Regions from separate parts of the Homo sapiens genome. Here all the other regions are linked to region 5. Evidence: fine-mapped expression QTL. A gene starts in region 5. Each other region holds a variant in brackets. All regions are shown on one strand. Distances are between the middles of the regions. Region 1 overlaps NWD1 (NACHT and WD repeat domain containing 1). Region 2 overlaps NWD1 (NACHT and WD repeat domain containing 1). Region 3 holds the start of NWD1 (NACHT and WD repeat domain containing 1). Region 4 overlaps SIN3B (SIN3 transcription regulator family member B). Region 5 holds the start of SIN3B (SIN3 transcription regulator family member B). Region 6 holds the start of F2RL3 (F2R like thrombin or trypsin receptor 3).

Region 1 (4,086 bases), 27 kb before region 5:
ACAAAAACAAAGTCACTATTTGGGACTTGGCAGAAGGTTGGTAAGGTATAAGTATGGTCATTTTTGTGGGTAAGGCTTGGAGCCATCTGTCTTAGTTTAGGCTACTGTAACAAATCATCCCCACAGGCTGGGCCCCATGGCTCACGCCTGTAATCCCAGGACTTTGGGAGGCCTTGGCGGGTGGATCACCTGAGGTCAGGAGTTCAAGACCAGCCTGGCCAACATGGCAAAACCCTGTCTCTACTAAAAATACAAAAGTTAGCCGGGCATGGTGGCACATGCCTGTATCCCCAGCTACTTGCGAGGCTGAGGCAGAATTGTTTGAACCTGGGAGGCGAAGACTGCAGTGAGCCGGGATCCTGACTCTGCACTCCGGCCTGGGCGACAGAGTGAGACTCTGTCCCAGAAAAATAAAATAAAATAAATTATCCCCATAGACTGGGTGGCATAAGCAAGAAACATTATTCCTCAACATTCTGGAGGCTGGGAAGTTCCAGATCAAAGTGCAAGCAGATCTCGTGTCTGGTGAGGACCCGTTTCCTGGTTCACAGATGGCCATCTTCTTGATGTGTCCCCAGAGAGAGAGAGAAATCTCTTGTGTCTCTTCTTATAAGGGCACTAATCCTATTCAGGAACGCCCCACATTCATGATCTAATCACTTCCCTGTCACTCTGCTACAGTTCGGAGGTTTGGCCCTACAAACCAGATGTTGGCATTTAATATCCGGCTGGCCATGGTGGCTTAAACCTATAATCACAGCACTCTGGGAGGCCGAGGCAGTAGGATTGTTTGAGCTTAGGGTTCAAGAACACCTGGGCAAGATGAGAGGATGCCATTTCTACTAAAAATTTAAAAAATAGCTGGATGTGGCCAGTCATGGTGGGTCACACCTCTAATACCAGCACTTTGGGAGGCCAAGGCAGGCAGATCACTTGAGGTCGGGAGTTCGAGACCAGCCTGACCAACATGGAAAAACCCCACCTCCACTAAAGCAATACAAAATTAGCTGGGCGTGGTGGTGCATGCCTGTAATCCCAGCTACTCAGGAGGCTGAGGCAGAAGAATAGCTTGAACCTGGGAGGCAGAGGTTGCAGTGAGCCGAGATCACGCCATTGCACTCCAGCCTGGGCAACAAGAGCAAAACTCTGTCTCAAAAAAAAAATTAGCTGGATATGGTGGCATGTGCTTGTTGTTCTAGCTATTTTGGGGGCTAAGGTGGGAGGATCGCTTGAGCCTGGGAAGTTGAGGCTACAGTGAGTCATGATCGCACTACTGCACTCCAGCCTGGGTGACAGAGTGAGACCCTGTCTCTAAAAACAAACAAAAAAGCCAGGCGTGATGGCTCACACCTGTGATCCCAGCACTTTGGGTGGCTGAGGTGGGCGGATCACTTGAGCTCAGGAGTTTGAGACCAGACGTCTCTACATAAAAGACAAAAATTAGCTCGGTGTAGTGGCTCACATCTGTAGTCCAAGCTACTTGGGAGGCTGTGGTGGTAGGATCACTTGAGCCCAGGAGGCAGAAGTTGCAGTGAGCTGAGATTGTGCCACTGCACTCCAGCCTGGACGACAGAACAAGACCCTGTTTGAAAACAAAACAACAATAAAAAAAGAAATTTAATCCCCAGTGTTGGAGGGAGGCCTCACGGGAGGTGTTTGAGTCATAAGGACACATCCCTCGTGGATAGATTAATGCCCTCTCCTGGCAAGGCAGTGGTGGTGGTGAGTAAGTTCT[A/T]ACTCTGTTAGTTCTCGCGAGGTTGTTAAAAAGAACCTGACCCCAGCTACTCAGGAGGCAGAAACAGGAAGATTGCTTGAGGCCGGGAGTTCAAGACCAGCCTGGGCAACATGGACCTTGTCGCAATAAAAATAAAAATAATGGCCGGGCATGGTGGCTCACGCCTGTAGTCCCAGCACTTTGGGAGGCTGAGTTGGGTGGATCACGAGGTCAGGAGCTCAAGACTAGCCTGGCCAACATGGTGAAACCCCATCTCTACTAAAAATACAAAAATTAGCCGGACGTGGTGGCGGGCACCTGTAATCCCAGCTGTTCAGGAGGGAGGCAGGAGAATCGCTTGAGCCCGGCAGGCAGAGGTTGCATTGAGCACCATTGCACTCCAGCCTGGGTGACAGAGCAAGACTCTGTCTCAAAAATAAATAAATAAATAAAAATAAAAATAAAAATAATGAGCTGGGCATGGTGATATTCACCTGTAGTCTCAGCTACTTGAGAGATGGAGGCAGGATGATCGCTTGAGCCCAGGAATTTGAGGCTGCAGTGAACTGTGATTGCACCACTGCACTCCAGCCTAGGTGACAGAGCAAGACCCTATCTCAATTAAAAAAAAAAAAAAAAAAAAAAGGAAGCTAGCACTTCCCTCTCTCTTGCTTCCTCTGGCCGTATGACCTCTGCACACCCCAACCCCCTTCACCTTTTGTATTAAGAAGAAGCAGCCTGGGGCCCTCACCAGAAGCAGAAGCTGGCACCATGCTTCCTGTACAGCCTGCAGAACAATGAGCCACATAAACCTCTTATTCATAATTATGCATTACTGTATTAGTCTGTTCTCACACTGCTAATAAAGACATACCTGAGGCCGGGCCTGCTGGCTCACACCTGTAATCCCAGCACTTTGGGAGGCCAAGGCAGGCGCATCATTTGAGGTCAGGTGTTCGAGACTAGCCTGGCCAACATGGTAAAACCCTGTCTCTACTAAAATTCCAAAACTTAGCCAGAAATCGCTTGAACCCAGGAGGTGGCAATTGCAGTGAGCCAAGATCTTGCTACTGCACTCCAGCCTGGGCAAGAGTCAGACTCTGTCTCAAAAAAAAAAAAAAAAAAGACATACCTGAGACTGGGTAATTTGTAAAGGAAAGAGGTTTAATGGACTCACATTTGCACATGGCTGGGAAGGCCTCACAATCATGGCAGAAGGCAAATGAGGAGCAAAGTCACGTCTTACATGGTGGCAGGCAAGAGAGTGTGTGCAGGGGAATTGCCCTTTACAAAACCATCAGATCTCATGAGACTTATTCGCTACCACAAGAACAGTATGGGGGAGACTGCCTCCATGATTCAATTATCTCCAGCTGGCCTCGGCCTTGACCTGTGGGAATTATTGCAATTCAAAATGAGATTTGGGTGGGGACACAGCCAAACCATCTCAGTTACCCAGCCTCAGGTAGTCCTTCATAGCAACACCAACAGACTTAGACAGGCCCCAGCTCCTAATACCATCCTATGGGGAGTGAGGATTTTGACATAGGAATTTGGTGGGGGGGTGGGGACACAAATCTTCAGTCCATAACATTCCTATAACTTCAATCAGGTAGAAAGTAGCTAGTCAAAAACAGGTTTTCATTAGCAACACCAATGAACTAAGACAGGCCCAAGCTCCTGATACCATTCCACAGAGGGTGATGATTTTAACATAGGAATTTGTCAGGGGGACACAAATCTTCAGTCCATAACACGCCTATAACTTCAATCAGGTGGAAACTAGCTAGTCATGGCCAGGTGTGGTGGCTCACACCTGTAATCCCAGAACTTTGGGAGGCTGAGGTGGGCGGATCATTTGAGGTCAGGAGTTGGAGACCAGCCTGGCCAACATGGCGAAACCCCAACTCTACTTAAAAAAAAAAAAAAAAAAAATTATCTGGGCGTGGTGGTGTGTGCCTGTAATCCCAGCTACTGGGGAGGCTGAGGCAGGATAATTGCTTGAACCTGGGAGGTGGAGGCTGCAGTGAGCCAAGACCATGCCACTGCACTCCAGCTTTGGCAACAGAGTGAGACTCCACCACCCGAAAAAAAAAAGAAAAAGAAAGTAGCTGGTCAAAAACAGGATTTCATTTTATACATTTTCTGCATGAGGTAGTTGGCAATCTGGTTGTTTCCGTTTGGCCTGTTTTAATTCAGGTTACCTAGAAGCTGAATCTGTGATGAGGATATTTGCACAAGTGATGTATTGAGGGGTGTTTCCAGGAGAACCCCAGAGGGAGATGAGAAAATGGGGCTGGCGGGGGAAAGGGTTGAGCAAGAATGCAGGCTCAGCTAAAGTCCCTCTCAGCATCATTCCATGGGGAGCCCTG
Region 2 (4,086 bases), 81 kb before region 5:
GCAGTGAACCAAGATTGTACCACTGTACTTCAGTCTGGGTGACAGAGTGAGACCCCGTATCAAACAAACAAACAAAGAAACAACATAAACAGTTGGCCGGGTGCGGTGGCTCATGCCTGTAATCCCAGCACTTTGGAAGGCTGAGGCAGACGGATCACGAGGTCAGGAGTTCAAGACCAGCCTGGCCAAAATAGTGAAACTCTGTCTCTACTAAAATTACAAAAATTAGCTGGGCATGGTGGTGCACACCTGTAGTCCCAGCTACTCGGGAGGCTGAGGCAGGAGAATCACTTGAACCCGGGAGGCAGCGGTTGTAGTGAGCTGAGATCGCACCACTGCACTCCAGCCTGGCAGCAGAGCAAGACTCTGTCTAAAAACAAAAAACAAAAAACAACAAAAAAAAACAGTCGATGAACACATATTTTGCATGTTCTATCTATCATATCCTGTTTTCTTACAATCAAGTAAGCTAGAGAAAAGAAAATGTTATTACAAAAATCACAAGGAAGAGAAAATATGTTTGCTGTTGATTAAACATAAGTGGATCATCAGTCACAAAGGTCTTCATCCTCATCATCTTCACCTTGAGTAGGAAGAGGAGGGGTTGGTCTTGCTGTCTCAGGGGTGGCAGAGGCAGAAGAAACTTGACCTGTGTAGTTCAAGCCCATGTTCTTCAATGGCCAACACTGTGTCATGTAACTTCCACCTCTGTCTAGTTCCAAGATATTTTCTTTTTCTTTCTTTTTTTTTTTTTTTGAGATGGAGTCTTGCTCTATTGTCCAGGCTGGAGTGTAGTGGTGCGATCTCAGCTCACTCCAACCTCTGCTTCCCAGGTTCAAGCAATTCTCCTGCCTCAGCCTCCTAAGTTGCTGGGATTACAGGCATGCGCCACCTCGCCTGGCTAATTTTTGTATTTTTAGTAGAGACGGGGTTTCCCCATGTTGCTCAGGCTGGTCTCGAACTCCTGACCTCTTGATCGGCCCGCCTTGGCCTCCCAAAGTGCTGGGATTACAGGTATGAGCACCCGCGCCTGGCTGACATTTTCTTTTTATTTATTTATTTATTTATTTATTTATTTATTTATTTAATTTTTTTTGAGACAAGGTCTTACTCTGTTGCCCAGGCTGGAGTGCAGTGGCACGATCACGGCTCAGTGTGGCCTCCAGCTCCTGGGGTCAAGCAATCCTCCCACCTCAGCCTTCCCAGTAGCTGGGACCGCAGTCACACGCCATCACAGGTGGCTAACTTATTTTTTGTAGAGACGGGGTTTTGCCGTTTTGCACAGGCTGGTCTCGAACTCCTGAGCTCAAGTGATCGTCCAGCCTCTGCCTCCCAAAGTGCTGAGATTACAGGCATGAACTACACCTGGCCCTCCAAGACATTTTCATCACCTCAAAAGAAGCTCTACCCATTAAACACTCCCCATCTCCCCTCTCCCAGCGCAGGCAACCATCAATCTGCTTTCTGTCTCTATTAATTTGCCTGTTCTGGACATTTCATGTCAATGGAATCTCACACTACATGGCCTTTTGTGTCTGGCTTCTCTCACTTGGCATCATATTTTTGAGGTTCATCCACATTTTAACACCTGTGAGTACTTCATCCATTTCAATGGCCGAATAGTATCCCATTGTGTGGAAGGACCATATTTTGTTTATCCATTCATCTGTTGATGGATGTTTGTTTTGATTTGTTTTGTTTTTGAGATGGAGTCTCGCTCTGTTGCACAGGCTGAAGTGCAGTGACATGATCTTGGCTCACTGCAACCTTTGCCTCCCGGGTTCAAGTGATTCTCCTGTCTTAGCCTCTTGAGTAGTTGGGATTACAGGCGTGCGGCATCACGCTGGGCTAATTTTTGTATTTTTAGTAGTGACAAGGTTTCACCATGTTGGCCAGGCTGGTCTCAAACTCCTGACTTCAGGTGATCTGCCCACCTTGGCCTCCCAAAGTGCTGGGATTACAGGCATGAGACCCCATGTCCAGCCCGTTGATGGATGTTTGGATTGTTTCTGTCTTTTGGCTATTGTGAATGGTGCTGTTACAAGCTAGGGTGTATTAATATTTGTTGGAGTCTCTGTTTTCAGGTATTTTCAGCAGATACCTGGGAGTGGAATTGCTGGGCGTGATAGTAACTCCATGTTTCACTTTTTGAGGATGACAGCATTGTTTTACAGTGTGACTGCTCCTCACATGGGACCTCTGTGTTGCCTACCCTGAGGGGTCTTTGATTAATAATGGCTAAATCAGGCCGGGCGCAGTGGCTCACGCCTGTAATCCCAGCACTTTGGGAGGCCGAGGTTGAATTGCTTGAGCTCAGTAGTTGGAGACCAGCTTGGGCAACATAGTAAGACCCCATCTCTACAAAAAATACAAAAATTAGCCAGGCGTGCTAGTGCATGCCTGTAATCCCAGCTACTCGGGAGGCTGAGGTGGAAGGATCGCTTGAGCCTAGGAGGCGGAGGTTGCAGTGAGCTAAGATCGCGCCACTCCACTCCAGCCTGGGTGACAGAGTGAGACCCTGTCTCAATAATAATAATAA[T/G]AAGAAGAAGAATAAGAGTAATGGCTTAACTAGTGTAACTCTGGGTGCAGTCCCTGGACCAGCAAGCCTTGGCTTGTTGCAAATGCAAACTCCGGGGCCCCACTCAGATCTGCTGAATCACTTCTGGAGGTGGGGTCCAGCCATGTGGGTCTTTTCGAGACCCCCAGGTCAGACTCTGGTGCACGTTAATCTTGAGAACCAATGCACATCCCCCAACAACAGGTCTCCCAGCAACCCCATTTAGGTCAGCTGCTGACCCAATAATGACCACACTTCCTTCCCACCTTCCCCACTTTGGCAGTCATTGAGTGGGAGATAGAGCGGAGCCTGCTGAGCTCAGAGGACCGGGAACAGGGAGCCACCGTCTTCCTTAGAGAGATCCAAGACCTCCACAAACACATCCTTGAAGACTGCGCCCTTAGGATGGTGGACCGGCTCGCGGATGGCTGCCTGGACGCTGATGCCCAGAACCTTCTCAGCAGCCTCAAAAGTCACATCACTGACATGCACCCAGGGGTCCTCAAGACCCACCGCCTGCCGTGGAGCCGCGACTTGGTGAACCCCAAGAACAAGACTCACGCCTGCTACCTGAAGGAGCTGGGTGAGCAGTTTGTGGTGAGGGCCAATCACCAGGTCCTCACACGCCTCCGTGAGCTGGATACGGCCGGACAGGAGTTGGCGTGGCTCTACCAAGAGATCCGCCACCACCTTTGGCAGAGCTCGGAGGTCATTCAGACCTTCTGCGGACGCCAGGAACTCCTGGCCCGGCTTGGGCAGCAGCTCAGGCACGATGACAGCAAGCAGCACACCCCCCTGGTACTCTTTGGGCCCCCAGGCATTGGAAAGACAGCCCTGATGTGCAAGCTGGCTGAGCAGATGCCAAGGCTGCTGGGGCACAAGACAGTGACCGTCCTGCGGCTGCTGGGGACGTCACAAATGAGCTCAGATGCCCGTGGCCTGCTGAAGAGCATCTGCTTCCAGGTGTGCCTGGCCTATGGGCTGCCCTTGCCCCCTGCCCAGGTTCTGGACGCCCACACCAGGGTGGTCCAGTTTTTCCATACCCTCCTCCACACTGTCTCTTGCAGAAACTTCGAGTCTCTCGTGCTCCTGCTGGATGCTATGGATGACCTGGACTCTGTCCGCCATGCTCGGAGGGTTCCCTGGCTGCCTCTCAACTGCCCCCCGAGGGTGCACCTCATCCTCTCAGCTTGCTCGGGGGCACTGGGGGTTTTGGACACCTTGCAGCGGGTGCTCCTGGACCCGGAGGCCTACTGGGAGGTGAAGCCCCTTTCCGGAAACCAAGGCCAGCAGATGATCCAACTCCTGCTGGCAGCTGCAAGGAGGACGCTGAGCCCGGTGCACACAGATTTGCTCTGGGCCAGCCTCCCAGAGTGTGGGAACCCAGGGCGGCTGAGGCTGGCGTTTGAGGAAGCCCGGAAATGGGCCTCTTTCACCGTGCCTGTCCCGCTGGCCACCACCGCAGAGGAAGCCACGCACCAACTCTGCACCCGCCTGGAGCAGACACACGGGCAGCTCCTCGTGGCCCA
Region 3 (4,086 bases), 110 kb before region 5:
TTTCACCGTGTTAGCCAGGATGGTCTTGATCTCCTGACCTCGTGATCTGCCTGCCTTGGCCTCCCAAAGTGCTGGGATTACTAGCGTGAGCCACCATGCCCGGGTGATTTGTGAGTTTTTGAGACAAAGTCTTGCTCTGTCGCCCAGGCTGCAGTGCAGTGGCAGGATCTCGGCTCATTGCAACCTCCAACTCCCAGGTTCAAACAATTCTTGTGCCTCAGCCTCCCAAGTAGCTGGGATTACAGGCATGCGTCACCACGCCCAGCTAATTTTTCTATTTTTAGTAGAGATAGGGGTCTCACCATATTGGCCAGTCTGGTCTTGAATGCCTGACCTCAGGTGATCCGCCTGCCTCGGCCTCCCAAAGTGCTGGGATTACAGGCATGAGCCACCGTGCCCGGTCTTGGAGTTTTAATGGTAATTAATCATGGCTAACATCTCACGGGCCCTTCCTGTGATGTAGGTGTAGTGTTAGTCTCACTCTCTATATAAATGCTTTTCATTGTCTCACCAACACAGGAAGTTAGTGAGAAAATTCAAGTGCAGAGTAGTGAAGCGTCACAGGCAAGGGACTTCACCTTTCTGCATCTTGTTTTCTTCATCTGTGAAACAGGATCATAATGTCTGTCTCTTGGGGTAATAATGTGGACTGCTAATGCCAAATGCCAACCAACTGCACCTCCTAGACTGTCAGCAAATGGCATCTTTTACGAGGAGCCGTATCAGCCTGGCACACAATAGTTAACCACTAAGTCTGGGCTGAATGCCCGGCTAAGCTGGTGCCCTAGTGCAAACAATCGCTTTCATTATCCCAGTTGCTGGGAGAATTGGGCAAGGAGAGACCCATAAAATACCTAAGACGAAAGTTACTAGGATAGCCAGGGGCTTGTCTTCCGGGTGGCGCCGAGGCCAGGAAACTGTCCTCTCTAACCTATTTCCCCAGAGGAGTCTAAATTGGTCGTTCAACTACCAGCAAAGGCTAAAGAGAGGCTGGAGCCCCCAGGACAGCCAGAACGCTGACACTGCAAAGGGCCTCTGTCCTTACTGGGGAAGCCCAGTCCTGCTCAGCTGTCTTCTTCAGCAACAAACAGAAGTCCAGAAAGAGAAACAGTTGTGGAGGAAGCTGTTGTGATGATAATTTACTGAGCACCTACTATGTGCCAGGCACGCCAGCCTTACCAGACAAGATCCTTGGGCTCATGGAATTCACTTTCTCGTGGGACAGACAAACAATAACATGTAGAAACATATCAGCTGTTGGTGAGTACCATGCAGAAAATTAAAATAAGGCGATGGCATTGGGAGTGACTTAAGGGGTCACTACGCAATGGGATGGTCAGAGACAGCCTCTCAGGAGGAGGTAGCATTGAAGCTAAAATGTGAACAACATGAACAGATGCAGCATAGAGCACTAAAGTACAGGACGTGCAAAGGCCCTGAGGTTGAAATAAGCTAAATGCATTAGACTAGGGGGTTCTCGAGTAAGGGGAATTCTGCCCCCTAGGGGACATTGCAATGTCTAGGGAGACTTTTTTTTTTTTGAGACGGAGTCTCGCTCTGTCACTAGGCTGGAGTGCAGTGGCGTGATCTCAGTTACTGCAAGCTCTGCCTCCCAGGTTCACACCATTCTCCTGCCTCAGCCTCCTGAGTAGCTGGGACTACAGGTGTCCGCCACATGCCCGGCTAATTTTTTGTATTTT[T/C]AGTAGAGACGGGGTTTCACCGTGTTAGCCAGGATGGTCTCGATCTCCTGACCTCATGATCTGCCCTCCTCGGCTTCCCAAAGTGCTGGGATTACAGGCGTGAGCCACCGCACCTGGCCGAGACTTTTTCTTTTTGAGATGGAGCCTTGCTCTGTTGCCCAGGCTGGAGCGCAGTGGCACGATCTCGGCTCACTGCAACCTCTGCTTCCCGGGTTCAAGCGATTCTCCTGCCTCAGGCTTCCGAGTAGCTGGGATTACAGGTACATGCCACCGCGCCAGCTAATTTTTGTATTTTTAGTAGAGATGGGGTTTCGCCATGTTGGCCAGGCTGGTCTCGAACTCCTGGCCTCAAGTAATCTGCCTGTTTTGGCCTCTCAAAGTGCTGGGATTAGAGGTGTGAGCCACTGCACCCAGCCTAGGGATACTTTTTAATTGTGACGACTTTGGTGGTGGTGGTGGGGGTGTGCTGTTGAAATCTAGTGGGTGGGGGCCGGAAATGCTTTGCAACATCCTAAAATGCATGGGACAATTGCCACCACAGAGGATGATCTGGCCTCAAATGTTTGTCATACTGAGATGGAGGAAGTCTGGGAGAGAGACTAGGAAAAAGCCTAGAGGTGAAAGGCAAGGTCAAAGACTCTTATCCTCCTGCGATCATCAGCAGGCAGTAACCAAGGGAGCGTGGCCAGGCGCTGAAGTGAATTCGGGTCCAAGGAGCCTGCTGGGACCCAGGAAAACGAGAGAAGGAACAGAAATTGTGGTGGAGGCAAATTCAAGATCAGAAGATTGGGGAGGAGGTGCTAAGAGAGGTCTGGAGAGATGCTGGGACCCAGAACTGGGGCCTCAGTGAGATCAGCAGGCTGCAGCTAAACTGTGGTATCCAGGTGAGTTGTGGGAAGGTGGCTGGGGGGCCGGGCTGGGTTTATGGGGGCGGGGTCCGTGGAGGAGAGGGGGTCTGACCCGCACTCGCTCCCTGACTCTGCCCTTCTAGCTGGTGAGAAAGTTCTCACTCTAAGCTGCAGTTTTCTCATCTGTTGAATGGTGACGCTCAACTCTATTTACTGGGCCTTTACTGCTGAGAAAATAATTAACTCTGGCTGCCCGTGGTGGCTCATGCCTCTAATCCCAGCACTTTGGGAGGCTGAGGCAGGAGGATGGCTTGAGGCCAAGAGTTCAAGAACAGCCTGAGCAACACAGTGAGACTCCCGTCCCTACAAAAAATAAAAAACTTAAGCCTAGCATGGTGGCACATGCCTATAGTTCCAGCTACTTGAGACGCCGAGGCAGGAGGATGGTTTGAGTCCAGGAGTTCAAGGCTGCAGTGAGCTATGATCATGTCACTGCACTCTAATCTGGGCAATGGAGTGAGACCCTGTCTCTTGAAAAAAACAACAACAACAACAACAACTAAAAAACTAGCTAGGCATGGTGGTGTGTGCCTGTTAATCCCAGCTACTCAGGAGGCTGAGGTGGGAGGATCACTTGAGGACAGGAGATGGAGGCTGCAGTGAGCCACAATAGTGCCACTGCACTCCAGCCTGGGCGACAGAGCAAGACTTGACTTTTTTTTTTTTTGAGACGGTCTTGCTCTGTCACCCAGGATGGAGTGCAATGGTGCGATCTCAGCTCACTGCAATGTCCGTTTCCTGGGTTCAAACAATTCTCCTGCCTCAGCCTCCCTGAGTAGCTGGGATTACAGGCATGAACCATCACGCCCAGCTAATTTTGTATTTTTAGTAGAGGCGGGGTTTCTCCATGTTGGCCAGGCTGGTCTCAAACTCCTGACCTCAGGCGATCCGCCCACCTTGGCCTCCCAAAGTGCTGGGATTACAGATGTGAGCCACTGTGCCTGGCCGACCCTCACTCTTAAAAAAGAATTAACTCAGCAGGCCTGAGTTGTCCATACCCCACACATTAAAGCTGTAGCTCTTGACCTGCTCCTGGGAAGTGACCTCTAAGCCCTTGGAATGGGATAAGGGTGTCTTTGTTTACCTGGAGAGCCTTGGCTCACACTAGATACTAACAACATGACTTAGAGAGGGAGCTTTAAGTCACGTGATATTGGTTGACCTCTGGAGGGGCTGGGGATTAAGGTCAGCTATGCTGGTGGTCAATCATGTCTACGTGACCAACTCCCAATAAAAACCCCGGACACCAAGGCTCAGGAGAGCTTTCCTAGTTGGTGGCAAACTGTTCATGTTGTCACACATCACTGCTGGGAGATTTAAGTGCTGGCCATACAACTTCACTGGGAGGGGACGACTGAAATCTCACACCTGGTCTCTTCTGGACCCTGCCTTGGATGCCTCTTCCTGTGCCTGATCTTATTTTATTTTTTGAGGCAGAGTCTCTCTCTGTTGCCCAGTGGTGGCTCACTGCAGCCTCA
Region 4 (4,086 bases), 40 kb after region 5:
ACACCCAGCTAATTTTTATATTTTTAGTAGAGATGGGTTTTCACCATGTTGGCCAGGCTGGTCTTGAACTCCTGACCTCGTGATCCACCCACCTCAGCCTCCCAAAGTGCTGGGATTACATGCGTAAGCCACCGCTCCTGGCCGACTCTGCCATTGTCTAGCGAAGTCTCCGTCCCTCCCGTGGGGCAGTGATGGACTTTGGCTTAGGTAGTGGGTGGCAGCAGCCTTCATTTCTTTCTTGCCGACTGTGCCAGGCACCGGTGTTAGCAACACAGAAAGAGTAATGCATCATCTGACCTCACTCCTGAACCTGACTCTGCTGCGGCATTATTCTGATTTTACCAGTGGGGAAACTGAGGCACAAGAGGTTGCATTTGCCTGGGCTGGTCGCAGGGGGCCAGGGCTCTGAGTCATTGGGTTCGAGGCTTTCGGCTGCATGTCCTCACTGCAGGCTCACAAGGCCTGAGTCATAGAACCAAGGCCAGCGGGGCCCTCAGGTTGCCAGGAGCTGGGCCTGTTAGTAGCTGTGTGTAGGGAGTGCCTGCTTGCAGGATCCTGAGGTGGGAAGCTTGGCAGGGTGCCGGGCGTGGTGATAGCCAGCTGTCGGGAAGGTCCTTGGACACTCTGAGGAGGTGGCTTAGGAGGGCACACTACTCCCCAGGCAGTGCCCAGATCATGGCACGGGCTGCGTTATCAGCCTGGTGCCCACCTGGGCAGGGGGTGTTGCCTCACCTGATTTGGTTTCTTGCTCCTGTCACTGCACAGTGAGCGGTCGCTCCTTCTTTTACAACACAGAAACGGAATCCACAGGAGCCGGGCTGCTGGCCCAAGGCCTCTCCCAGAGCCTGTGGGACTGTGGGGACCCCCTTCCCTCCCACCTCCCTTCCCGTGGGCCACCCTCGCCCCAGGCCCACCCACAACCACTCTGGCTTCCTCACTCTAGTCCTCGGCGATCCTCAAGCCCAAGACCCCGTATAGGTTCTGTGGGTCTGTGGTGTCTGCAAAGTGCAGATGATGAAGTAGCCCTGGAAATCCACCAATGCGACCCTGAGTTCCTGGATCCCTCCCTGGGGCTGGGGCTGACAAAGGGAGGGGCACCAAGGTTCATATGCAGATCTCTGCACATGCAGGTCCTTGATGAATTCCAAAGTCAGAACCCCATTCCATCACGTGATTTACAAAGCATGGTTACAGATCATGGACATGGGGACCCTGCTTCAGAGGGGACTGTAAAGGAATTTTCAGAGTGTTTATGGCATAAATGAGACCTGGGGGACTTAGGAAGCAGTCAGAGGGCGATGGTCACACTGAAGAGCCCAGAGCAGGGCTGAGCGTGCAGACTCCTAGGAACCAGGTCAGTGTGCTTGGCCCTACCAGCCTCTAAGCCGCCTTGCAGGGGAGGAGGAAGGGAAACCTCAGGCTGCTAGGAGACCCGGTCCTTCCCTCGGGAGCCTGCAGAGATGGCATCCACGCTCATTTTCCCCAAGAGCCCTGCTGCGTCTGCCTCCCTGCCTTGGACTGAGGGGGTTGGGGCTGCCCAGCAGAGGCCCTGGGTGCCAGGACAGTGGTGTGGGAGGCTGGAGGAAGGGGTGATTGTCTAATGGTGTGAGGGAATGAAAGTCATGATCTAGATAAAGACCAAGGGGAGGGGTGAGCCTGGGACAGGGTTTTCCAGGGAGTGAGAGCAGATGGGCATGTGCAAAGGCCCTGCACACGCAGGAGGGAGCTTGGCGCGGTGAGGCTGGAGGAGCTGTGGAGGGGCACATCAGGGGCCGGCGTCTTCTGAGCAGCCTGGGAAAGCCTGAAGGGCATTAGTTGGGGTGACCATGCTCCTGTGGGCCAAGTCACCCTGGACCCAGTGAGGAGAGTGGTTGGAGCAGGCTGGTGGGAGCTGGTGGGAGGGCTGGTGACATGATGGTGGTAGCAAGCACGTGCAGGGGCTGGCGGGGACAGCAGCGGAGGCGGGGGCTTGGTGACGATGGGCGTGCAGGTCTTCAGATGTGAGCAGTTGCAGGCCTTCCGGGTAGTAGATGGAGGGCAGAGGCAGAGAGGTCACGGCTCACCCTTTGCCTCCTTGACTTCATCGATAGCATGGTGTGGGCAGCCCCGGTCGAGCTGGAATCAGGCGCCACCGTTGCTTTCAGTAGGAGGAGGTCAGCCTCAGAGGCTTCTCCATGCTGAGCCACGGGGCCCCGTTCTGTCCTGGAGCTGGGCTGAGCGACAGACCCAGGCTTGACGCTGTCAGACCCCCTGTGAACCCCGCCCCACATCTCAGAATCCTCTTGGCTCCTTTGTCTGGGGTCCCGGGATGACTTGGGTCTGCCTCACTTTCGGAGAGGGGACCAGGAGCACATGGGGCTGCACAAGAGGTTGAGGCAAGCGACCTACCCCCCAGGCCCTGCTGCCTCACCGATGTTCGCCACCCATCCTGCTCTGGGCAGCGCTCATCCACCTTGGTGGCCCAGTTAACAGCGAGTCGTGAATGGGCACTGGGGGTCCTCTGGGTGCTGGGTGGCTTTCC[A/G]CCTAATGGCCGCCCTTCCCCCCACAGCACCAGGAGCAGCACTCGGAGGGCCGCAGTGCCCCCTCTAGCGAGCCGCACCTCATCTTTGTGTACGAGGACCGGCAGATCCTGGAGGACGCAGCAGCGCTCATCAGCTACTACGTGAAGCGGCAGCCGGCCATCCAGAAGGAGGACCAGGGCACCATCCACCAGCTGCTGCACCAGTTCGTGCCCAGCCTCTTCTTCTCTCAGCAGCTGGACCTGGGCGCCTCCGAGGAGTCAGCTGATGAGGACCGGGACAGCCCCCAGGGGCAGACCACAGACCCCAGTGAGCGGAAGAAGCCGGCGCCAGGACCCCACAGTAGCCCCCCAGAGGAGAAGGGGGCCTTCGGGGATGCCCCGGCCACTGAGCAGCCACCCCTGCCGCCCCCAGCCCCGCACAAGCCCCTGGACGATGTCTACAGCCTATTTTTTGCCAACAACAACTGGTACTTCTTCCTGCGCCTGCACCAGACCCTGTGCTCCAGGCTGCTGAAGATCTACCGCCAGGCGCAGAAGCAGCTTCTGGAGTATCGGACCGAGAAGGAGCGGGAGAAGCTGCTGTGTGAGGGCCGCAGGGAGAAGGGCAGCGACCCCGCCATGGAGCTGCGGCTGAAGCAGCCCAGTAAGGCTCCAAAGCCTGCCGGGAGGCCCCGGGGGGTGCCTGGGGTTAGGGGTCACAGCTCATGATCTGACATGTCCTGTTACTTTTCTTTCTGGCTTTTCATTTTAAGAGAATTCTGTGATTTCAAATGGGAAATTGCAAACAGGAAGTTGCCAGCATAAGACAGAGGTCTCACGTACCCCTCGCCCAGGCTCCCCTGGCCGTGGCACCTGTCCTGGGTGTAGCACCCTCTCCTGACTGGGGAACATTTGTTTCTCATGGGCTTTCTCGTGGAGCCGTCATGGCCCAGCTCCACAGTACCCTTTTTCTTTCTTTTTTTTTTTTTTTGAGATGGAGTCTTGCGCTGTTGCGCAGGCTGGAGTATAGTGGCAGGATCTCGGCCCACTGCAACCTCCACTTCCCAGGTTCAAGTGATTCTCCTGCCTTAGCCTCCCAAGTAGCTGGGATTACAGGCGCTCACCACCATGCCTGGCTCATTTTTTGTATTTCTTTTTTGAAATGGAGTCTTGCTCTATTGCCCAGCCTGGAGCACAGTGGCATGATCTCGGCTCACTGCAGCCTCCGCCTCCCAGGTTCAAGCAATTCTCTGCCTCAGCCTCTGAGTAGCTGGGATTACAGGCACCCACCACCATGTCCGGTTATTTTTTTTTTGTATTTTTAGTGGAGACGAGGTTTCACCATCTTGACCAGGCTGGTCTTAAAACTCCTGACCTTGTGATCCACCTGCCTCGGGCTTCCAAAGTGATGGGATTACAGGCATGAGCCACCGCGCCCAGCCCAATTTTTTGTATTTTTAATAGAGACAGGATTTCACCATGTTGGCCAACCTGGTCTCAAACTCCTGAACTCAGGTGATCCGCCTGCCTCAGCCTCCCCAAGTGCTGGGATTACAGGCATGGGCCACCATGCCTGGCCTCCACAG
Region 5 (4,086 bases):
TGCGTTCCTTTTTACCATTCTATTCCTGACACTTAGCAAGGTGCCTGGTAAATGATGCACTCGATGCCAATTTACTCTCAACTTTCCTGCACCTCTTCACTTATAAAAAGAGAAAGCACTTGGTCATTAATTGAACGTTCACTTATTTGATGAATGCTGACTGAGAGACTGTGTCAGGGATTTGTATTAGAGACGGACACAAAACAAATATGAAATACAAGGGACTGAGGGGAGACATAGAAGGGGACTGGGAACACTTCCTGAGGGAAAGGGATATTTGGGCTGCGTTTAGAAGGATGTATAGGTGTTTTCTGAATAACAAAGAGGCATGACAGTACTTCTGGCAAAGGAAATGGTGAGTGCCAATGCTTGGGACCAGGAAGCAGCCAGGTTGGTCAGGCAATTGTGTGAAGTTCTGCACAGAGGCAGGCAGTTTGCTTGGAAAATCCTGCAGGAAAAGGTTCCTAAGGACCAATTCTGACAGCCTGCAATGTAGGTGCTTAGATTTCATCTCATTAGAAATAGGAAGACCTTGGAGGTTTGGAAGGAGTGGTGGAAAAAGTGGAGTTTTTTGTTTTTCTGTTTTTTTTTTTTTAAGAGATGAGATGCTCTTTAAAAAAAAAAAAAAAAAAAAGCACTGCTATGCTTCCCAGGCTGGGGTGTGCAGTGGCAAGATCATGGCTCACTGCAGCCTTGAACTCTTGGGCATGAGCAATCCTGCCTCAGCCTCCCGAGTAGCTGGGACTAAACGTGTGCACCACCACGCCCAGCTAATTTTTTCATTTTATTTTATTATTTAATTAATTAATTAATTAATTTTTTGAGACAGAGTTTTTGCTCTTGTTGCCCAGGCTGGAGTGCAATGGCGTGATCTTGGCTCACTGCAACCTCCGCCTCCCGGGTTCAAGCAATTCTCTTGCCTCAGCCTCCCGAGTAGCTGGGATTACAGGCATGCGCCACAAAGCCCGGCTAATTTTGTATTTTTAGTAGAGACGGGGTTTCTCCATGTTGGTCAGGCTAATCTCCAACTCCAGACCTCAGGTGATCTGCCCGCCTCGGCGTCCCAAAGTGCTGGGATTACAGGCGTGAGCCACGGCGCCCAGCCAATTTTTTCATTTTCTTTTTCTTTTTTTCAAGGCCCGGCTAATTTTTTGTATTTTTAGTAGAGACGGGGTTGCACCGTGTTAGCCAGGATGGTCTCTATCTCCTGACCTCGTGATCCGTCCGCCTCGGCCTCCCAAAGTGCTGGGATTACAGGCGTGAGCCACCATCCCCAGCCTAGAGTTCTTGATAGTATCAGGGCTGAGAAAGTACCAGAGTTAGAGCCAGGTGGGGTGGCACTAAAAGTACAAAAAATTAGCAGGGCGCAGTGGCGGGCGCCTGTAGTCCCAGCTACTCAGGAGGCTGAGGCAGGAGAATGGTGTGAACTCGGGAGGCGGAGCTTGCAGTGAGCGGAAATCGCGCCACTGCACTCCAGCCTGGGCGACAGAGCGAGACTCTGTCTCAAAAAAAAAAAAAAAAAAAAAAAAAAAAAAAGAAAGTACCAGAGTTAGGAGGCTCCTAAACTGGTCCAGATGGGAAGTGACGGGGCCAAGGATAGGGAAGTGAAGATGGGAGGAGTAGGACTAACTTAAAGGCCATTTAGCAAAAATTCACCACGCAAGGCCCTATATTAGGGCGCTGGGGGCTCATACCTCATCGTCCCGTCAACTCTATAAAGCAGGGGCCAACAAACTTTTTCCATAAAAGGCCAGATCGTAAATACTTCAGGGTCTGCAGATCTGTAGGATCTTTAGCAACTACCTACTCTGTTGTAAGGCGAAAGCAGGCAGAGAAGCCAGGTAAACGCGTGGGCGTGTCTGTGTGCTAATAAAACTTTATTCAGGGACCCTCAAATGTGAATTTCACAAACTTTTCACAGGTCATAGACTATTCTTCTTTGGATTTTTCCCCCGGCTATGTAAACATGTAAAAATAATTCTGAGCTTGCGGGGCCGGACAAAGTAGGCGGCGGGTCTTGGCTCGCCTACCCCTGCTATATAAATCATTAATTATGATACCAATCTTAAGGAGAAGGTCTTCAGAAGAGTCCCTCAAAGAGCACCGCCCCTCAACGTCATCAAACCCCGCCTCCAAAGGCGGAGGCTGCGCATGCGCGGCAGGACCTCGGGCGGGGGCGGGGCGGGGCGCAGCTCCGACTTCGGACATGGCGCACGCTGGCGGTGGCAGCGGTGGCAGCGGTGCCGGCGGCCCCGCGGGCCGGGGGCTGAGCGGCGCCCGCTGGGGTCGCTCGGGCTCCGCAGGCCACGAGAAGCTGCCGGTGCACGTGAGTGGCGTCCCCGCCCTCCCTCGGGGAACCCATCTTCTGGACCCCGCGGGCGGGCGCCCCTCACCCAGGCCCCGCCCGGCCCCAGCCCCACCTCGGCCTCCCCTCTGCACTGCCCCGGACCCCTCACCCCTCACCTCTCACCTCGGCCCTCCGAAAGCCCAGCCCATCCCCTTCCCCTCAGGGACCCCGGCCCCTCGTCCCCTCGTTCCGCGGCCAGGGCCCACCGGGACCCTCCCCCTCTCTGCAGGTAGAAGACGCCCTCACCTATCTGGACCAGGTGAAGATCCGCTTTGGCAGCGACCCTGCCACCTACAACGGCTTCCTGGAGATCATGAAGGAGTTCAAAAGCCAGAGGTACCAGCGGGGCCCCTCTCCACCTCAGGGGACCCCCCTGGGCCGGAATCGGGCCTAGCGGGGTGAGACCTCCCCTCTCCAGCCTGCCCCCTTAGCCGGGTGACCTTGCGCAGGTTGTCCAATCTCTCAGAGCCCTAGCTCCTTCTCGTAACAAAAATGGAAATGGGTAGTACCCACCTTGTGGAGCTTTGTGGGGATTCCTGGAAGCAGGACAGGGATCTGGGGGGAGGCAGGGAGGGCGAGGCCGTGCACACTCATAGAGTCAAATCCTGCCTTGATTTAATATGTTGATTTTTATATTAGTTTTGTTCATGAAAGATTTGGTGGGACCCATTTTGATTTTTATTTTCAAGCGCTGTAAAATGTTATTGTCTTGATGATTGAAATTTTTGGCACCCTCTTCCCCTTTAATCTTGTCCTCAAGATGCTTCTCTGGGCTCACTGTGGTCCCAGGCCTGCTTGGAAGTAAGACGCATAAAATGCTTAGTAAGGGAGCTGGCACACAGAAAACGTTTAAAACACATGAGATGATTTTGCAGGCCCAGAATCAAGGAAGATTACAGATAGATGGGAAACCCTGGGATCATGCCCTTGTTTTTATAGGAGACTCACTGAGGTTTGGAGTGGGTAAGGGACCCACCTAAGTGGCAGAGGTGTCACTAGAACTCAGACCCTCTGACTCAGATTCTTGGAAGTCACATGCTTACCATACTGCTGCCCCCTCTTAGGAAACATGGTGGGGCTGGCCTGGTTTCCTTCCGGGAGCCCAGTGCTAAGGGCTGGGCTGCAATGCAGCCAGAAGGGAGACCCCATCTCTCCCCTCCTATTTTTCTTACACCTTTCCCATTCTTGGCAGTACCATTGGTATTTATGCATTGCAATTGTTTGCTCAGATGGAAACCTGTGTCATAGTCATCTCTATCTGATACAAAATGAGGGAAGTTTTCACATTGCTTAGAGGACTTTGGCCTCCTGCCATTTCTTGGAGTCCAGGCCTTGCGGTTGGCTCTCCTGACATTTTCAGAACCGAGTACCCATTCTTGGAGTGTTTTAGGGGAGCTGAGCGATGTCAGTATTCTCTGGTTCTCACCAGGAGGGAACAGGGAGCTCAGGCCTAGCCAGTCAGGAGATAGGTCATGGTGTACAGATGCTATCACATGGGGGCACTTTTTTTTTTTTTTTTGAGATGGATTCTCGTGCTGTCGCCCAGGCTGGAGTGCAGTGGTGTGATCTGGGCTCACTGCAGCCTCCGCCTCCCGGGTGCAAGTGATTCTTGTGCCTCTGCCTCCTGAGTAGCTGGGACTGCAGGCACGCACCACCACTCCAAGTTCGTTTTTGTATTTTTAGTACAGACAGGGTTTCACCATGTTGACCAGTCTGGTCTCGAACTCTTGACCTCAGGT
Region 6 (4,077 bases), 58 kb after region 5:
CCTTGGCCTCCCAAAGTGCAGGGATTACAGGCGTGAACCACCTCACCCAGCCCAGAACTCTTCCATCTTGCAAAACTGAAACACTGTGGCCTTAAGCACTCACTCCCCAATCCCCCTCCCCCAGCCTCTGGCACCCCCCAACCCATTCTACTTCCTGTCTCTATGGAGGTGACCACTCCAGGGACCTCCCATGAGTGGAATGACTCAGGATTTGTCTTTCCGTGACCGGCTTATTTCCCTCAGCATAATGTCCTCAAGATTCATCCACAATGTAGCATATGTCAGAATTCCCTTACTTTTTAAGGCTGCCTTTTTTTTTTTTTTTTTTTTTTTTTTTGGCAGAGTTTCACTCTGTCACCCGGGTGGGAGTGCAGTGGTGCAATCACAGCTCACTGCAGCCTCGACCTCCTGGGCTCAAGCAATCTTCCCACCTCATTTTTTGATTTTTTGTAGAGACAAGATTTCACTATGTTGCCCAGGCTGGTCTTGAACTCCTGAGCCCAAGCGATCCCTCTACCTCGGCCTCCCAAAGCACTGGGATTACAGGCATGAGCCACCACTCTGAAACAGCCCGGCCTGGCTGTCTGCCCTTTTTAAGAAAATAAGATTTTGGCCGGGCGTGGTGGCTCACGCCTGTAATCCCAGCACTTCGGGAGGCTGAGGCGGGTGGATCACCTGAGGTCAGGAGTTTGAGACCTGCCTGGCCAACATGATGAAACCTCGTTTCTACCAAAAATACAAAAATTAGCCAGGCATGGTGGCGGGTGCCTATAATCCCAGCTGCTCGGGAGGCTGAAGCAGGAGAATCGCTTGAATCCAGGAAGCAGAGGTTGCAGTGAGCCGAAATGGCACCATTGCACCTTCAGCCTGGGCAACAAGAGCGAACCTCCATCTCTAAATAAAAAATATTTTGGCCAGGTGCAGTGGCTCATGCCTATAATCCTAGTGCTTTGGGAGGCTGAGGCAGGTGGGTCACCTGAGGTCAGGAGTTTGAGACCAGCCTGGCCAACACGACGAAACTCCGCCTCTACTAAAAATACACAAAATTAGCCGGGCATAGTGGCAGGCGCCTGTAATCCCTGCTGCTGGGGAGGCTGAGGCAGGAGAATTGCTTGAATCCAGGAAGCAGAGGTTGCAGTGAGCTGAGATTGCGCCATTGCACTCCAGCCTGGGCGACTGATCGAGACTCCATCTTAAAAAAAAAAAAAGTTTTTATGGAAAGTAACACAGTGCACAGAAAACTCCAACAGTACAAAACAGACACATGGTTTCCTCTCCTCCAAAGCTGTCGCGCCCAGCGTCCTCCGGGAAGTACCTGGGCAGTGTCGCCTGGGTACAGCTTGTGCCTGACAGGGGCAATGTCATCGTCACCTCTGCTTGCTGGGGTTCCCCCGACAGCCTGTGCTGCCGTGTTGTTCCCGGGGAGGGGCTGTTGGCGGGCACCTCCCTGCTTTGTGCTGCTGTGTGGATATCCTCCCAAGGACATCTTCCTGTGCGTGTGTCTGGCAGAAATTCCTAGACATGGAACCCTTGAGTATAAGGGCATGTGCGTCACTATGTTTTTTTTTTTTTTTTGAGACGCGTTTCACTCTTGTTGCCCAGGCTGGAGTGAGGCTGGAGTGCAATGATGCAATCTCGGCTCACTGCAACCTTTGCCTCCCATGTTCAAGTGATTCTCCTGCCTCGCCTCCCGAGCAGCTGGGATTACAGGCATATGTCACCA[T/C]GCCTAGCTAATTTTGTATTTTTACTAGAGATGGGGTTTCTCCATGTTAGTCAGGCTGGTCTCGAACTCCCAACCTCAGGTGATCCACCCGCCTCTGCCTCCCAAAGTGCTGGGATTACAGGTGTGAGCCACTGTGCCTGGCTTTTTTTTTTTTTTTTTTTTTTTTTTGAGTCGGAGTCTCGCTCCGTTGCCCAGGCTGGAGTGCAGTGGTGTGATCTCAGCTCACTGTAACCCCTGCGTCCTGGGTTCAAGAGATTTTCCTGCCTCAGCCTCCTGAGGAGCTAGGACTACAGACGTGCGCCACCATGTCTGGCTAATTTTTGTATTTTTAGTAGAGACGGGTTTTCACCATGTTGGCCAGGACGGTCTCGATCTCTTGACCTCGTGATCCACCCACCTGGCCTCCCAAAGTGCTGGGATTACAGGCGTGAGCCATTGCGCCCGGTCGTGCATCACTATTTTGATGCATCATCTTCAAACCACCCTGCCCCAGCATCACTGGACTGCCGGTGTGCCCAGCCTCCCCTGCACAGCTTCCCACTCTGCTCACAGAGAAGACGGTGGAGGGGGGAGCCCAGGCGTGGGTTTTCCGTGTGCTGAGGGTGTCCTCAGCCACCTTTTTCCCCAAGTCATTGACGTGAAGCTGATTTTCTCATTGGTGGCCATGGAAACTGCCCAGAAATGGGAGCAGGGCCTCTGAGACCCTGCCCCAGCTAGACTCTCTCTCCAGGCTTCAGTGTCTCCTCCTGGAGCTGGGTGTTGACTCTGTCCAAGACTCTGCTCAGTCACTTCCTGGCTGATCCCCGAGTGCTCAAGTGTGTGATGAGATTAGGGCTCCCCCAGGCAGGAAACGGCCACATTGGACCCCTCCCTCCCCCATCCCTAGTTCATTTTATTTTCCCCAATCCTCATGGCTCCCAACTAGGCCCTCCTGCTCCCAGACCCCCCCAAGCCCTGTCCCCCATCCCCTGTAGCCCAGCGCTGAGCACACTGGGGCCAGAACCACCCATACCAGACTCCCCCAGGGCACGACGGGTTGAGGCCTCTCTGAGGCAGGGAGGGACAACACTGAGGGGCCTTGTGCAGAAGAGGGAAGGGGTACCCCCCCGAGCTTCAGTTTCTTCATCTGCCCGATGAGCCCCCATCCAATGGTACCCAGGAGTGGGGATGTGCTGGGGCTAGAGGAGGGAGGCCCCCTGGAGGCTGGCTTGGGGACCCTTCAACCTGGCCACCTCACTCAGGGTCAGAGGTCAGAGCAGGCGAGCCACACACCCCGAAGTCCCCCCGGTCCTCGGCAGGTGCTGTCCCCAGCATCACTGTCTCCCCTACAGATGCCCGTGTGTCCCCTGGGCAAGAGTGAAGTGAGGCACTCATACAGGGGTGCCTTGTGAGTATGGGGTCAGCCGAGGATGCTGAGGGGCTCTCGAGGTTCAGCCAGAGTCCCTGACGCTGGGCTCGTGCTGCTCTGGGGGTCTGAAGGGACCCTCGCTATTACCCTCTGGGAGGCGCCCATCCTTGGTTTTTTTTTTTTTTTTTGCCGAGTCTCGCTCTGTTGCCCAGGCTGGAGTGCAGTGGCAAGATCTCGGCTCACTGCAACCTCCACCTCCTGGGTTCAAGCAATTCTCCCACCTCAGCCTCCTGAGTAGCTGGGACCACAGGCATCTGCCACCAAGCCCAGCTAATTTTTGTATTTTTATGAGAGATGGGGTTTCTCCATGTTGGTCAGGCCGGTCTCAAACTCCCAACCTCAGGTGATTTGCCTGCCTTGGCCTCCCAAAATGTTGGGATTACAGCCGTGAGCCACCGTGCCTGGCCTAGCAGGGCTCTTCTTATCCTGCTCACCAGAGATAGGAAGTCGGGGGGTGACTTCAGGAAAGGCCCAGAGCCCGTGATGGGCGTGGGGATTGGGGTGAGGACAGGGCTGTCGTGAGAACAGTGGCTGCAGATGTGAGCGGCTGGCAGGAAGTGGCCACTTGAACCGCAGATGCTTCCTGGGCTGGTCAGGGACCGGGGGTGCTGGCTGCAGCTGGGACCCCCCCCCCTGCATCTTGCTGGCCTGGCACCTGGGTCCCTGGGAGGCGCCACACTGGATATAGCCACGTGGGGCAGCCCGGTCTCCATAACCCACACTCCAGTCCTCCCACGGGCTGGCTGGCAAGCGGCCCTGGTGGGTCTGCGGGGGCAGGGGCAGCCTTCCTGGTTTATCTCTACCGGCGCGATCTGCTCGTCCGCCTCGGCTCCAGAAGCTGGGGCTCAGGGTCCGGCGAGGCAGGAAGCCTGAGGCCACAGCCCAGAGCAGCCTGAGTGCAGTCATGTGGGGGCGACTGCTCCTGTGGCCCCTGGTGCTGGGGTTC

The links.
Region 1: its variant is fine-mapped to the expression of SIN3B in whole blood (INTERVAL, PIP above 0.99).
Region 2: its variant is fine-mapped to the expression of SIN3B in whole blood (INTERVAL, PIP above 0.99).
Region 3: its variant is fine-mapped to the expression of SIN3B in whole blood (TOPMed, PIP 0.98).
Region 4: its variant is fine-mapped to the expression of SIN3B in whole blood (TOPMed, PIP above 0.99).
Region 6: its variant is fine-mapped to the expression of SIN3B in whole blood (TOPMed, PIP above 0.99).

Annotation. Positions count from the first base shown.
Region 1 is chr19:16,800,127-16,804,212 of GRCh38, forward strand. It overlaps NWD1 (NACHT and WD repeat domain containing 1), which reads left to right. Exons shown (of 19, transcript NM_001007525.5): 17 at 1-36. All of the region lies in intron 2 of LOC124904648 (a long non-coding RNA gene), which reads right to left. Among named protein-coding and RNA genes, the nearest start is that of SIN3B, 27 kb to the right of the region's middle. The variant A/T (reference allele first, on the strand shown) is at 1,736.
Region 2 is chr19:16,746,299-16,750,384 of GRCh38, forward strand. NWD1 (NACHT and WD repeat domain containing 1) reads left to right here. Exons shown (of 19, transcript NM_001007525.5): 6 at 2,841-4,086. Among named protein-coding and RNA genes, the nearest start is that of NWD1, 28 kb to the left of the region's middle. The variant T/G (reference allele first, on the strand shown) is at 2,540.
Region 3 is chr19:16,719,034-16,723,119 of GRCh38, forward strand. NWD1 (NACHT and WD repeat domain containing 1) reads left to right here and starts at 814. Exons shown (of 19, transcript NM_001007525.5): 1 at 814-1,260. The variant T/C (reference allele first, on the strand shown) is at 1,701.
Region 4 is chr19:16,866,912-16,870,997 of GRCh38, forward strand. SIN3B (SIN3 transcription regulator family member B) reads left to right here. Exons shown (of 19, transcript NM_001297595.2): 13 at 2,549-3,164. Among named protein-coding and RNA genes, the nearest start is that of F2RL3, 20 kb to the right of the region's middle. The variant A/G (reference allele first, on the strand shown) is at 2,522.
Region 5 is chr19:16,827,215-16,831,300 of GRCh38, forward strand. It overlaps SIN3B (SIN3 transcription regulator family member B), which reads left to right and starts at 2,184. Exons shown (of 19, transcript NM_001297595.2): 1 at 2,184-2,326; 2 at 2,577-2,683. The coding sequence starts at 2,207. RefSeq lists an enhancer at 1,910-2,411 and a silencer at 2,152-2,331.
Region 6 is chr19:16,885,155-16,889,231 of GRCh38, forward strand. It overlaps F2RL3 (F2R like thrombin or trypsin receptor 3), which reads left to right and starts at 3,845. Exons shown (of 2, transcript NM_003950.4): 1 at 3,845-4,077. The coding sequence starts at 4,036. RefSeq lists an enhancer at 929-1,429. The variant T/C (reference allele first, on the strand shown) is at 1,724.